Homo sapiens: one gene and its partner. The protein of the gene in region 2 purifies or fractionates together with the protein of the main gene of each other region. This does not show direct contact. Each region holds a gene or a part of one and is shown on either strand. Other genes may lie near its edges.

The links. The genes of interacting proteins can lie anywhere in the genome.
Region 1: the proteins of PPM1K (region 2) and DBT purify together in Homo sapiens (affinity purification with mass spectrometry; 6 studies listed by BioGRID and IntAct, with this or other methods). This does not show direct contact.

The regions. Positions count from the first base shown.
Region 1 is NC_000001.11:100,246,835-100,254,676, reverse strand, and holds the start of DBT (lipoamide acyltransferase component of branched-chain alpha-keto acid dehydrogenase complex, mitochondrial isoform 1 precursor), read left to right. Parts: upstream 1-4,842; 5' UTR 4,843-4,856; coding exon 4,857-4,907; intron 4,908-5,591; exon of another isoform or gene 5,592-5,778; intron 5,779-7,842. UniProt on the Homo sapiens protein: The branched-chain alpha-keto dehydrogenase complex catalyzes the overall conversion of alpha-keto acids to acyl-CoA and CO(2).
Region 2 is NC_000004.12:88,267,560-88,274,580, forward strand, and holds part of PPM1K (protein phosphatase Mn(2+)-dependent 1K), read right to left. Parts: intron 6,896-7,021; coding exon of another isoform or gene 6,867-6,895; intron 3,729-6,866; coding exon of another isoform or gene 3,536-3,728; intron 1,348-3,535; coding exon 1,182-1,347; intron 776-1,181; coding exon 631-775; intron 1-630. UniProt on the Homo sapiens protein: Serine/threonine-protein phosphatase component of macronutrients metabolism.

The DNA of each region.
Region 1 (7,842 bases), on a different chromosome or scaffold from region 2:
TCTTGAGGAACTTCTATTTTCACAAAAATAAAGTATATCCATACAACGAAGTATTGTTCAGCCATGAAACTGTACCAATTTACAAATATTGCCACCAACAGTTTACAAGGGTTTCATTTTCCCTATACCCTTGCCAACATTTGTTATTTGTCTTCTTGATAAGTCATCCAATATATTAATACTACATTTATATAGACTCTTTCATCATATAAAGTAGTATCAAGATACTAGAATTCCTTTGATCTTCAAAATATCCCTGAAGGTATATTGAAGATGGTAGGGAAGGTATTATCAATGTCAATCTCATCTTGTACACAAGAAAATTGAAACTTGCCCATGATAGGCAAAAAAGAGGCAGATCTATATATAATTCAAACTCTTAATGAATCACTACAAACTATCCATATTAAACAAAATATATATCTGTATTATATACAATACATACAACTCTATATTAACATAGTTGACTAAGCATATATTGGAACAGTTTCTAAATAAGTAATGATATTTAAATACTTAGGCTATTAAAAGTCCTCAAAATTCATAAATAGTTAAACTACAGTAGCTCTGGCAAGCATGTGTTGGTATATTTTGGGGTAATGGTCAATGCAGGGGCTGACTCTAGGCTACATTTATCTCCTGACCACTTAGAATTCAGAGCAGAATTCAGAAGGTCATCCTCAGATTTTTCTACACCAGTCAGGCACACCAAGGAGCCAAACAAGTAATTTAAGACCTTCATTAATTAGCATCTTGCATTTTGGTAAACGTCACTCTTTCTGAGAATTCCATTGAATAGAGCAGAGTGTCAATTTAACGAAGCCACAGTCATGTTCTATTTTTTTTTTCTTTTAGGCAGGGTCTTGCCCTGTTGTCTAGGCTGGAGTGCAGTGATGCAATCACAACTTACTGCAGCCTCGAGCTCCAGAGCTCAAGTGATCCTCTCGCCTCAGTCTGTAGGACTACAGGCACACGCCACTACCCCCAGCTAATTTTTTGTAGAGATGGGGTTTTGCCATGTTGCCCAAGCTGGTCACAAACTCCTGAGCTCACGCGATCCTCCCGCCTTGGCCTTCCAAAGTGCTGGGATTACAGAGCCGCCGTACCTGTCCCACAGTCATTTTCTTAAGGATAAATTGTTTCATCTTACTTTGTCCCACATTTATAGAAAGTAACATAGACAACCATCTTAGAAATATCAACAATTGAGCAAGCACTCTAAGAATGGCTAATAAACATGTAGAAACATGCTCAACTTTATTAATAATCAGGGAAATTCAAATTAAGATTATAACATCATTTTATAATTACTAAATTGGGGGAAAATTTTAAATCTGACAATATCAAATGAGAAACAATAAACATACAGCAGCTAGGCATGTAGTTTGTACAATCACATTGGAAAACAATCTCGTATTATCTAGAGTAAACTTGAAGATAAACATAACCCCTGTTTCAACAATTCAACTTTTAGGTATTTATCCTAAGCCTACTAATCAAAGTGTAGTTGGCTAACCAATAGCATTTGTATCACCTGGAGCTTGTTAGAAATGCAGAATGGCAGGTTTACCCACATTTACTGAATTAGAATCTGCTTGTTAACAAGATCCCCGGTTGCTATGAATGCTCATTAATGTCTGAGAAGCGCTGTGCTAAAGAAACCCTAGAACATGCACCAGGAGAAATGATCAAGAATGTTCATAACAGCACTGACGGTAATAGCAAATAACTAGAAATAGCACAAATATCCACTCAGTAGAGAATGGATAAATAAATCATGTCAGAAAAACTAGTTGCAGAAAGATACATACAGTTTAATACCATTTTTATGAGACTCAAAAACAAGCAAAAGTAAATAATATGTTACTAGGCATCCATCCATATATGTATATGTGGTCAATTCTAAAATAAACAAAGGAATGAAAAACACAATTCAAGATAACGCTTATGAAGGGGAGAGGTAAAGGAAGGAGCAGACAGTGATCTTCACTAACGGGAAAGATTCTATTTCTTTTTTTTTTAGTTTAAAATGTATTTTATTTTTAGACAACCTACATAATGTGTTTTTCCATAGGTTCTATTTCTTAAAGTTGAGTGATAGGTTCAAGGGTTTTTGTTATATTATCATGTGACATATGTATTTGTTTTGTATTGTTTTGAGATGGAATCTTGCTCTATTGCCCAGGCTGGAGTGCAATGGCACAATCTTGGCTCACCACAACCTTCGCCTCCCAGATTTAAGCAATTCTCCTGCCTCAGCCTCCCGAGTATCTGGGACTACAGGCGCATGCCACCATGCCTGGCTAATTTTTGTATTTTTAGTAGAGATGGGGTTTCACTATGTTGGCCAGGCTGGTCTCGAACTGCTGACCTCGTGATCTACCCGCCTTCGCCTCCCAATGTGCTGGGATTACAGGCATGAGCCACCACGTCCAGACTTATGTATTTGTTTTTATTCATATGTTCATTATTGTCTCATATAACACAGTTTTAACAGCTTTATTATGGTGTACTTTACATACCATAAAATTCACCTGTCTTAAGTGTATAATTCAAAGATTTTTAGTAAATGTACAGAATTATGCAATCATTGCCACAAAGTGGCAACAGAAAATTTTCATCACCACAAAAAAAATCTCTCTTGCCTCTGCAATCACTGCCCCTTCCACCTCTAGCCCCAGGCGAATTTGTTTTCTAATGCTAACCTTATTAATTAATAATACTAATATAATCTTATTATATAACTAATATAACTAAAACTAATCTGTTTTTCATCTCTATAAATCAACATTTTCTGGACATTTAATTTAAATGGAATAATGTAATATGTGATCTTTTGTGCTTGTATTCTTTTACTTAGCATAATATTTTTTTGACATTCATCCATGTCATAGCAATTATCGCTAATTCAGTCATTTTTAAGGATGAATAATATTTCAGAATATGGATGTACCACATTTTGTTTATTCACCTGTTAATGGACATCTGGGCTGTTTCTAGATTTTGGCTGTTATGCTGTTATGATTATTCCTATTCAAGTCTTTGTGTGAACACTGTTGTCATTTCTCTTATGTAGCTATCCAGGAGTGGAATTGGTGGGTCATAACTGGCCATTTTTAAATCTAAAAAAAGAGAAGAAATGGGGTCTTTGTTTCTTTCAAACTCGAATAAAAGAATTAACTAGGGAATAGATGGTGTATTTCTTTCCAGATGCTGGAATGAAAGATAAGGACACATATTATACTGAATATAGAAGCAAGAATCCATTGACATAAGAAGACGGTAAAGGAAAATAAACTAGTTATCTTCTGAGGAGCAGGTACAGTTAAAAACGAAATTAGGACAAAGAAAGTTGTATAGCAGCAGCTTGGAAGGGAGATGATTCACTTCAAAGGTACAACTGCCACTGCTTTTTATACAAACACATGCTTGTGGGATTATCAAATATATTAATAATGTCTATAAACATTTTTAAGGAAATGTAAAAACTTGAAATTCTTTTGACTACTCTAGATTTTCTGAGAAAGATAGCTATTTAGGCCGGACCCAGTGGCTCATGCCTGTAATCCTAGGACTTTGGGAGGCTGAAATGGGAAGATCGCAGTTTGAGACCAGGACTTTGAGACCAGCCTGGGCAACATAGAGAGATCCCATCTTGAACTTCTGAGCTCAAGCCATTTGCCTGCCTCAGCCTCCCAAAGTGCTGGAATTATGGGCAGGAGCCACCACGCCTGGCCCAAGAGACCCTATCTCTACCAAACAAACAAACAAACAAAAAAGATAATAAGATTTATTGTTTGCATTGATTTTTTGTGTGTAGATGTGTAATACATAAAATGGCAAATGAGGGGGAAAAGTGTTTGGGTCATATTAAACAATGAAGTTGTGAAATACCTGAGATTTTGTTTCATAACCACTAATCTTCAATGTTGAGCATTTAAAATGTATTTGTTCCAGTTTTTTTTCTCTGTAATTCCTTAGACATCTGTGCAGATTTTCATTCCCACGTAAGAAGCAATAACAGACTAATGTCATCCTGGACATTTCCAGGAATTGGTTTCCTAGTTGCTCTGAGGAAGATTGCCTTTTAAAAGAAAGCTCTGATCTGTTCTTTACCAGTTCCACTTGACCTGAATTTGACATTTCTTTAAGAGACAACTAAATCAAGATCATGTGTCTGTGACATGTATTGCATATGCTAGTTAGCTGCATCTGATAGCAGTCTGTAAAAAGAAAGATGATAACATGTTTATTTTAGACATTAGGTAATGTTCATCTTTCATGAAAAAAATTGATTAGCCAATTTTGGTAATCAAAAACATAAATGGGAGTAAAAAAGGCAGTCATTGGGAAGTACTGCTGTATGGACTTGTGAAACAACTAGTTGTCCAGAGCCTTGCTACAACGTATAGAAATATTCTATTTTCTGTATTTGGGGCGGCTACACTACAAGATGAAGACGGGGAAATGTTTTCCAACTCATCGCTCAGGTCCTACTGCAACATAACTTTCTTGAGGTAAGTACCTTTCTTTGTGTTTCCTTAACACTCTCTATTTTCCCCATCACATACACTAAAAAGATTATCTTTGGTGCATCTGTATTTACACAGCAGTGTTAAATTTGGGCTGCCCTCTGCCCCGCCTCCGTCCCCCAGGCTCTTTTCACTCCCCGCTGGGTCCCAGATCCTAGGGTTTAGCTCAGGCTCCGCCCTACTCCTTGGTTGGCTGTTGGGTGGGAGGCTCGTTTCTTCCCTCCCTATTGGTCGCCCAGGGGGAGGCGCGTTTCCCATCTCCTGATAGGCCGCGCCGAGGAGAGTCTCTCCAGTTTGCGGCACTGTTGTCATTTCCGGGGTAAGATGGCTGCAGTCCGTATGCTGAGAACCTGGAGCAGGAATGCGGGGAAGCTGGTAAGCACGTTTGGGCAGATCTGAGGCCGGGAAGGAGTGATTTGTCCGGAGTCATCCAGGAGTGGTGTTTTACTTTCTCCTCCGGTGCCAGGCGTCCAGGGCACGCGTGATGGAGAGGTGAAGGGATGCATGCAAAATAAAGGGCAGAGAACGGAGCGAGTCGACCAGTCTGGAGTGGAAACCCACTCCCTCCCCTTACCTGGAAGCGCTTCTGCAGCGACTCAGCCGTCCTGCTCCATCTGTACCCCGAGGCCCAGCTAGCGTTTTATTGAGCGCCTTCCAGGTGCCCAGGCATTGTGATAGGCGCTGTGGATCCAGAGATATATTCGTTTAGCATTTATTGCGTACCCACAGTATGCCAAACACTGGTAACACGACCCCTACCCTCAAGGAATCTACAGTGTGTAGAGGAAGAGGCCGTTCAAGTTATAGAATATCAGCAGGGGTCCCTGCTTCCGAAGAACTGAGCAGCTCGGCGTCACTCTTTTGCCTTGTACTTCTATGTCCGCACCACATATCATTCCTACCCTTTTGTCACCAAGGCTGTGACCCATCACCATCTCCCCTGCACTTCCTTCTCTTTCTCCCAGTCTTAGCACCAAGCACTGACACATACCGGTAATGATACTTGTTACCCCTATTTGCTTAGTGTTTCTTCTTCCTGCCTCTTCTCCCTTTCCCTAGATGCTCCTGCCTTGGTGACCCCGATCTTACAAAAACTTTCAAGAGCCTGCTATGTACCAGTGCTGTGTTAGGCACTGGAGATACAAATATGAAATAGACATCATATCTTCCTTCTCAAGAGATTACAACCTTGTGGTGGAGGACAAAGGAGAGGGAGACAGATAGAAATTACAACCCAGCATGAGAGGTACTGTGATGGGACAAGTGCCTAGAACTACAGGAACACACAGGAGTGGACACCTATGGTGGACTTGGGGGTCAGAGGAGTTCCCAGAGGATACTGTATGACTTGAGATGTAAGAAGGATAAGTAAGAGATAACCAGGAGAAGAGAGCTCTTCTCAGCAACACTTAACACATATTGGTCTCTCTTCTTTCTAGAGCTTTCCATTCTTGTTTTCTGTGACACCAGTTTCCCAATATTATTCTTTCTTCATCTTTGGCCACTTCATCCCAATATCCTGTTTCCCTTCCCGCCTTTTAAATATTGCTTTTTCTAAAGGGCTCTGACTTTGGCCCTCTGCACTTTTCCCACTTTCTGGGTTATCCCATCCACTCTTTGGCTTTAGTTACCATCTATGCTGATGAGTCCTAAAGTTCCCCAGTCTTCCAACCAGGTCTACTCCAAACCCATATATCCTACTGTCCTGGAAATCTCCAGTTTCATATGTACGTGATGTTTTCCAGCTGCAATTAAAAACCCAACCAATAAATAGGAAATTAAGTATCCATGCATACAGAGCATCCCCAATTAGATGTCAGCTCACATTAAGTGGCTTATGATTATCAATGTCGTCATTTCCCTAGTAGTTCATTTGTCCTTTTCCTACTGTATACAAGAGGGCTGCTACGACTTCTTCTTTTATGTTGAAGGCAGGAAGGTGGAAGAGGAGGAGGTTCCAGTCTCACTGGCCAGAACTGTGTTACATGGCCCCGGCTAGCACAAGGGAGCTTAGAAAAACTTGTCTTTTTTTTTTTTTTTTTTGAAATGGAGTCTCTCTCTGTCACCCAGGCTGGAGTACAGTGGTGCGATCTTGGCTCACTGCAACCCCTGCCTCCCAGTTTCAAGCGATTCTTTTGCCTCAGCCTCCCAAATATCTGGGACTACAGGCACACGCCACCATGCCCAGCTAATTTTTGTATTTTTAGTAGAGACGAGGTTTCACCATGATGGCCAGGCTGGTCTCAAACTCCTGACCTCAAGTGATCCGCCTGCCTTGGCCTCCCAAAGTGCTGGGATTACAGGATGAGCCACCATGCCCAGCAGAAAAGCTTGTCTTTAGTCTTCTCACAGTGTCTGCCGTAAAGCTTCAAAGCAGGTCAGACTCTCCAGCCTCTAGAACTGAACCCTCAAACCAGTTTCTCTTAATTTTTTTTTTTTTTTTTTTTGAGAAGAGTCTTGATCTGTTGCCCAGGCTGGAGTGCAGTGGTGCAATCTCGGCTTACTGCAACCTCCACCTCCTGGGTTCAAGTGATTTTCCTGCCTCAGCCTCCCAAGTAGCTGGCACTACAGGCGCGAACCACCATGCCTGGCTAATTTTTGTATTTTTAGTAGAGACGGGGTTTTGCCATGTTGGCCAGGCTGGTCTTGAATTCCTGACCTCAGGTGATCCTCCTGCCTTGGCCTCCCAAAGTGCTGGGATTACAGGCGTAAGCCACTGCCCCTGGCCCAGTTTCTCTTGATTTGAGCCTGTAATTCTCTCTGAAGAAATCTAGTCATGATTTTTCCACCCTGCCCTCAACTGGAGGTGTCTTGGCCCTTCTTAACTGGATTATATGCCTCCAGTGGTCTTGTAGTTTTTCCAACCCATTCTCCATAGTGTAGCCAGAGTGATCTTATAAAGTAAGAGACATTTGATAATATCATTTTCTTGTTTAAAACTGCCTTCAGCAAAATGTCCAAAATTCAAATGACTATGAGGCAATTTATGATCTGGACCTTTCCAGTCTCTTAGATCTCATTCCTTACCAAAACCTACCCATCCCAACCCCAACTCTGACACTTCCCCACCCTTATTCCACACTAAACTACACTAGAAGTCTGTTGAACAACTTGAGTTATTTGCACACACACTGTGCTTTCTGTCTCAACTCCAGACCTTTGCACATGTATTTCCTCTGCTTTAAAGACTCTTGCCTTACTCCACTGTGGCCTTATCTGCAACATACCTCATCCCCGGGGTTACACCTACTCATCCGTCAGGTCTTACTTCAACATAACTTTCTCCAGCTAGGTTCCCTTAACACACTCT
Region 2 (7,021 bases):
ATTGCTAAAGTCAAGTCACTGAAAAGGCAGGGGTACACTTCCTCAGCCTCTACTTGCCTGGTGGCAGGACATCAGTCCTTCTTTACTGGAGACAGCACTTGTTTATTGGCCCAGAGAAGGAACCAGCAGGCACCAGAGAAATCTGGGAACAGGTTTTACTATCTCTCCACATTTTCCTGACTTTTAAAAGACTGAAACTGTTCTCTTCTTTATCTTGTCACTATGCAGGATCTATGGCTATTTAAATACAATTTAAGCAAAGCCCCTAAGCCACTGCCTTGGAAGAGAAATACTTTTAACTGAGGCCTTTCCCGTACAATGGGTTCAGCACGTGCAAATGTCTGCTTGTTTGTTTGTTGTTGTTGTAGTTAATCTGACTTTTATTTTCAAGAAAGTGTCTCAACTAAGAACCTAAAAAGGGGGAAAAAGAGAATTGTTTTGTCCTCTACAATAAATTAGGCCAGAATAGTAGCATCTTATTTTACCTGAAAAGTTTTTTTATCCTTCCATAAATTACTCCCTTTTAAAAATCATTTTGGCTTCAGTTAAGGCTTCCAAGAAAGGTGCAGCAGAGACAATCCTACATTCACTCTCCGCAGGTTTATCAAGTGTTTGCAGGTCCTTTCTTACCTTAATCCTCTTAGTTTCAGGTTCTGCTATGACACCACTGGTCTTAAGGTCCAAATCTCCAATACTTCTTGTCATTGCAAGCCTGCCATTTACGTGAGGCTGCCCCAAACTATTCCAAGCTACAAAACCACCACATTTCTTGATCCTGTTAAAAGTTAAATGACAATGGTGTGATATGTAGAAAACCCTTTGGGAGGCCAAGGAGGGCAGATCACGAGGTCAGGAGATCGAGACCATCCTGGCTAACACGGTGAAACCCCGTCTCTACTAAAAAACAAAAAATTAGCCGAGCGTGTTGGCAGGCGCCTGTAGTCCCAGCTACTCAGGAGGCTGAAGCAGGAGAATGGTGTGAACCCGGGAGGTGGAGCTTGCAGTGAGCCAAGATTGCGCCACTGCACTCCAGCCTGGGCGACAGAGTGAGACTCTGTCTCAAAAAAACAAAAAGAAAACCAAGTCACTGTTAAACTTAACCATGACATCAGTTTAAAAACTATTATGAACTAAAAACATCATCCACATAGAATGATATGATGGATCAGTGGTGGTAGTACCTTTCTTTTTCATCTTTTCTTTCTGGAGTATGGTCAATGGTCAGCTTCATGGGTTTTCCTTTTCTACACAAAATAGCCCGGCTGTCCCCAACACTGGCTACAACCAGTTCAATACCATCTCGCAATAGGGCTACTGTTGCAGTAGTCCCAGAGGTCAGAAGAGTTGCTACAAGTATTATGAAAAAAAGAGTACAAGTTAGTGACAGTCAAATGATTGGATATGGAATTTTTATTACAAAATAAAACACAAGCATGATAAACTAATGCTGGAATATATCATTCTAATTTAACTAGAGCTAAGCAAATAAAATGCAAATGAACTATGTAAGTAACAGCATGCAGAGAAACAAGTATTTAATTCAGTAACAAGTCTCCATGCAAACGGAAAGGTTGCTAACCTTATTTGGCAAACACTGCATCACTATCTACAAATGGCCTCTATTCATATCAAGTAGAGCTGACTTGAACTTATAACAACACCTTCATGGATATCTGGTGTCCAGACTGAAAGTATTAAAATTTAATTAGGTTGGCTATGATGGTGGGATGACTTAGGTCTACTTGAGCCCATGGAGGCAAGCTGACTTTTCTATAGTCTATGGATTTAGAAGGTTTTCTCTTCCATTTTTCACTCCTATGCTGTGAACATATTATCAGTTAGTAGGCTAAGTGAGACATGCCAAGGGTATACCATTTGCATATTCTACCCCTGTATGCTTCTAAAACTGTTTTAATTTTATAAATGTTCACCAAAAAAATCCTAAAATGGTTACAGGCTCACATTCTTTTCTGTTTATCTTTGTCCTCCCTAGACGTGAAACAAAGTTACAACCATCATTACAGGAGCAGAAAATCTGGGGGAGGGGAGGTGGAGAATGAAGTTCATTCTAGCTTCTCATAAACTTGGTGTAGTTAACACTCCTAACTCCAGAAGGTTGTAATACAAAGAGGTAGTCTTCAAACGCAGGGCAGTACTGCCAGCTGCAACTCCTGGGGTCCTGTTTGGGCCCAGAGCATCCCACAAATATGAATTTTCTCTAATAACAAATAAAATTCATTGTTACTGGGCTTGAGGTCACCGTTTCCTCCATCCAACTCAGACTGCATTTCTGCATCTTCCTTTGATTTCCTCTAACAGTGTCTGCCCTAAGTTCTTTACCACTTGTTAAAAATTGTTAATTTGCATTGAGCCTTGTCAAAAGTGAGAATATTGTGAAATTATGGGCTAAAAAATAAAACAAAGTGGAAGAAATCGGAAAAGATAACTTATTTAAAGCAGGTATTGTCTTTAGTAACACTGTTAACTCTTTAAAACATTCCAAAGATGACTTCGATTTTAAAGGTACATTTAGGAAAAACGAAGTGCTACTAATTTGACTGATTAAGACTCAATCTTTCCAAGCTTTTTTTTTCTCCCCAAAAAGATAATTTTGAAAACTTCATCAGTAATGCATTGGAAGGAGATATATACATAAATAGATTTTTCCAATCAGTATATTAAAATGCCTGCTTTAATCAGAAAAGTAAGATGGAAAAGCATGAACAAACTCTACTTAATCTTTTATAGTCATGCTGAACTTTCTTGAGAAATAACATTTATAGTTGCACTATCTTTCCATTTTTCTCTTGATTTTGGAACTGTCGTGCCAATGTAATATTTCTGCAATGTTGAAAGATACATTTGTCCACCATATAACATAAATGTTTTAGCATAAGTATCAGTGATATTTATATTACAAATGTTAACTCGTAACTTTAAATTACCCAAACGACTATGAAACAGTGGAATCTTTACAGTTTGACTAACTATGATATTTCAAACGATTTAAAGAGCCAGATAAGGGAACACGGCATTTATTCAGATGCTACCTGTCCCGGGAATTTAATATTCCTTCCATTTGTTTAAACCATCTACAATAGTTTTCTTAAAAATGGTTTATTATTGGCCACAGTAAAAGAGTTAAAATTTCATAAGTAGAAGTTTAGTTATTTAGGCTTGTAATTTATGGCTCTGTCACCTAGGAATTTTAAGACTTTGAGTTTTTACCAACCCAACTTCACAGTTCCAAAATCCCAGGATTTATAGGAAAGGCTTCAAAACTAACTGTCAATTCTGATTTGCTAAGCATTTAAGAATGTAAATATTAAATCAGCATTCATTTTCATTTAACATTTAACATGGAAGTAAAAATTCTCACTTTTTGCCTAACAACAAAACTAGAAAACTAAGACATCTTTCAATAAGTTCTTAACACTCACTGGACAATTTCTACTGCAAGTCATCTCAACTAATGGGACAAAGAGATGTGGGAACCTTCCCGTAGTCCAGGATAGGAACCGCTGGACTCCTTCACCTGGGACAAAATTAAGCAGATCTCTCTTTCCACTGAAGCCCCGCATATAGTGTCCACGGGCTCCAGGTCTAGAGCTGCTGACCAGGCACAGTTCTCTGCCACAAATAACACGCACAGAGGCAAATACGAATTTCACCCAGGAATTGTGCTCAAACATTACAAACCTGCAACACAGGGGAGAGCAGAGAAAGAGCTGCAAAATAAGGGAAGGGTTTTTTATTTTGGTGAAAATTTAACTAGCAAATTATATAATATTCCAGGAGATGCCAAATCAATTATTCCAAAACTCAGTTTGTTCCAGTTGATGGTATTTTGTAGTTGAGCCTATTTTTTCATCACAGGGTAACACTTCTTTCTTAATTTTGTGGTTTCTAAGGTTGAAAAAACTATATAAAAAAGTATCTGTACCAAGACACATAAATGGTGACACAGACCTACATTTAACACACTCACAAAAACACTCACGCATATACACATTCACTGAAATAATTGGTCTTAAACACAGTAAATCACTACCTTTACTGAGTTACAAAAAATGCACTGTAAATTTGTTTGGTAGCAATATCAGAATTGTCTCAAGAATAGAAAGGTAAATCTACAGTTACAGCATGGAAGAATTTGTATCTGACAAGCAGGATGTAAACTACAGTATACCACCAAATTACTGGGACTTAAATATATATCAAGAAGGAATCAAAGCACCCGCTATACAAGATACATAGAGTAATGCATTTGTTAATGGTGCTTAATGCAGAGACTTAGTACCTATAAGGCATTTTTGAGTAGAATGATTAATTTAAATTCATTGCTTAAATAAAGGCTAGCGAGACGCATGTTTATAATTTTGTATAATTCACAAAATGGGTATTTCTGCAGCTCTCTCTTTCCCCCAGTGTTGCAGGCCGACACATCAAAAGAAAAATGATCAAGATTGTGAATGCCAACATAAAGAGCAAAAGCTATACTTTTCAAAGTATAATGACCCCTAGTAATTACTCAATTGTGTAAATAATACTATGTATAAACCAATACAGTTTCAATATTTATTAAAAATGGGTGTTCTAGACTCATGACTCATGAACACCAAAATCAAAGTAATGAGCTGAAGCAGTAGCAGCACGGTAAGAACATCTCATCAATGCTCTCTTTTTTTTTCTTTTGGCTGTCCCGGCATAGGGGATTCAAAAATGCTGTGTTTACAGCCCTGGTTCTTTTGTAGTTTAATTCTTCCATAAAGAGGTCACAGGATATGAAGAACATAAAAGTTTCTGGTGAGACTCATAATGCCATCAATGTCCCCCACTCTGAATGTCTGAGCAAGTCTTCTCTTTTTGTTCCATTTGTCCCTTTCGGAGCTTTGTTGCTTTCAAAGTTTAAGCAATCTGGAAACACTCTGAAGAGCTTATAGGAAATATAGAATTATAACCTAATTTTCTACCATCTAGTTTGTTCTAAGTGGCTATCTCTTTATAAACAACGGACTGGTGGGATATCATCCGGATTTACTGGCTGCTTTTATTAATTGTAAAAGTAGACATTACTGGTATAAATTGAATAAAAAAATTAAAAGATGGTGATGAAATTTGCTACTGATAACTAAGGACAGGTTGAAAATGCATTAACAAAAAAGCAATAAAAATAGCTGACAATTTCTTAAGGGCAAGGGAATCTTGTTCTTGCCATTTCTTGATAAGTGGCATTTTGATTTTATTCTTTTCAAAATATCCCCAGCTACAACAGTAAATTATTTTATTTTATTTTCTACTCAAACAATAAGCTTTTATTATATTTTACAGATCAGTCATCCAGGACATGCTGCGTCTGTGGTTGGCATCGTCTCATTTCTGAAAGGACTGAATGCACATAAAAGTCTCTTGCCCACGCTGAACTCACACATGCCGGGCAGAAAAGAGCTCTCACTAAGTGTAACTTGAGTGTGAACTTGCTCAGGCAACAGCAATGCCATTCAACAGTAAATATTTTAAATGTTAGTAAGATAATTTGAAGTTCTTTATGTAGCTGTAACAGCTTTGGAACTGAAGTTGAGAGGAGATAAGAATGTTTTAATTTCACTTAAGAAAGTTAATATGGTATTGATACAGGAGCTAGAAATAAATTATGTAGGCACATAGTGAGGGTAAAGGAGTCCGTGGCAAGGCTTCCCTTTTAACAAAAAGCAGCCTCCAAACCATTTCTTTTCTAACAAAGAGCAACCTGAAAAATTGAGCTGCAAACATAAATAAGCAAGCTGGAAGCTTGCACAGGTGAATGCCAGCAGCTGTGCCAATAGAAAAGTACTACCTGGGCTGGGCACAATGGCTCACGCCTGTAATCCCAGCACTTTGGGAGGCCAAGGCGGACAGATCACCCAAGGTCGGGAGTTAGAGACCAGCCTGACCAACATGGCAAAACCCCGCCTCTACTAAAAATACAAAAATTAGGTAGGCATGGTGGCAGGCGCCTATAATCCCAGGTACTTGGGAGGCTGAGGCAGGGGAATCACTTGAACCTGGGAGGTGGAGGTTGCAGTGAGCTGAAATTGCACCATTGCACTCTAGCCTGGGAGACTAGAGCAAAACTGTCTCAAAAAAAAAAAAAAAGAAAAAGAAAAGGGCTACCTGGGGCCAAGCATGTTCAATATGTTCCATCTTCCCTTTTCTTTGTCACCATGTGTAAAGAAATGGGCAACATGGCGCTGGCCAGGTAGAGAACCCATCTGCATAATAAAAGATTAGGGTGGGGGTGGCCAGATTCTTGAATGCTCTGCAAATTGCACACCTAGGCCTAATCAGTTTTTCGTGTGCTATGCAAATGGCACATCTGGTCCAACCAATCTTTCATGCCCTATGTAAATCAGACACTGCCTCCTCAAGTTCATCCATAAAGCCTCCTGCACTTCACCATGGACTAGAAAGCTGTTTGGGACCCCTCTTTTTGCAGGAGAGAGCTTTTCTCTTTCTTTCACCTATTAAGTCTCCACTCCTAACCTCACTCCTTGTGTGTCCTCGTCCTTGATTTCCTTGGTATGAGACAATGAAACTCAAGTATTACGCCAGACGAGCAATGCTGCTTCAGTAGGACTGAGCGGCACGCCTCTCTTTTATACCTAAAATCTCACCATTAGTAATTCACTTCTATGGTTTAAGCCTTTTTCAGGTGTCTGCTAACTAAAATTCAAATCCACCCAGGAGTGACAGCTCATTAAAATGCAAACATTTTATAATAATTTGATTAAATCAGCTATATGATAATCAAAGAAAAAATTACAGTAACTTCAGTGAGAAAGAGTCAGCGTGGAGATCTCAGTTCAATCCAAATAATTATTGAGTACCTGCCAGGTTCTATGCAGGGTGCTGCACACTGGAGATTCAAAAATGAATAAGCCACAGTCCTTCACCTCACAGGAAGGGTTCAAGAAGAGGGGAAAGGGGTTAATACTAAAAGAGAAAAGATGAAAGAAACTGGAGAGGGTAAACTGCACTTACT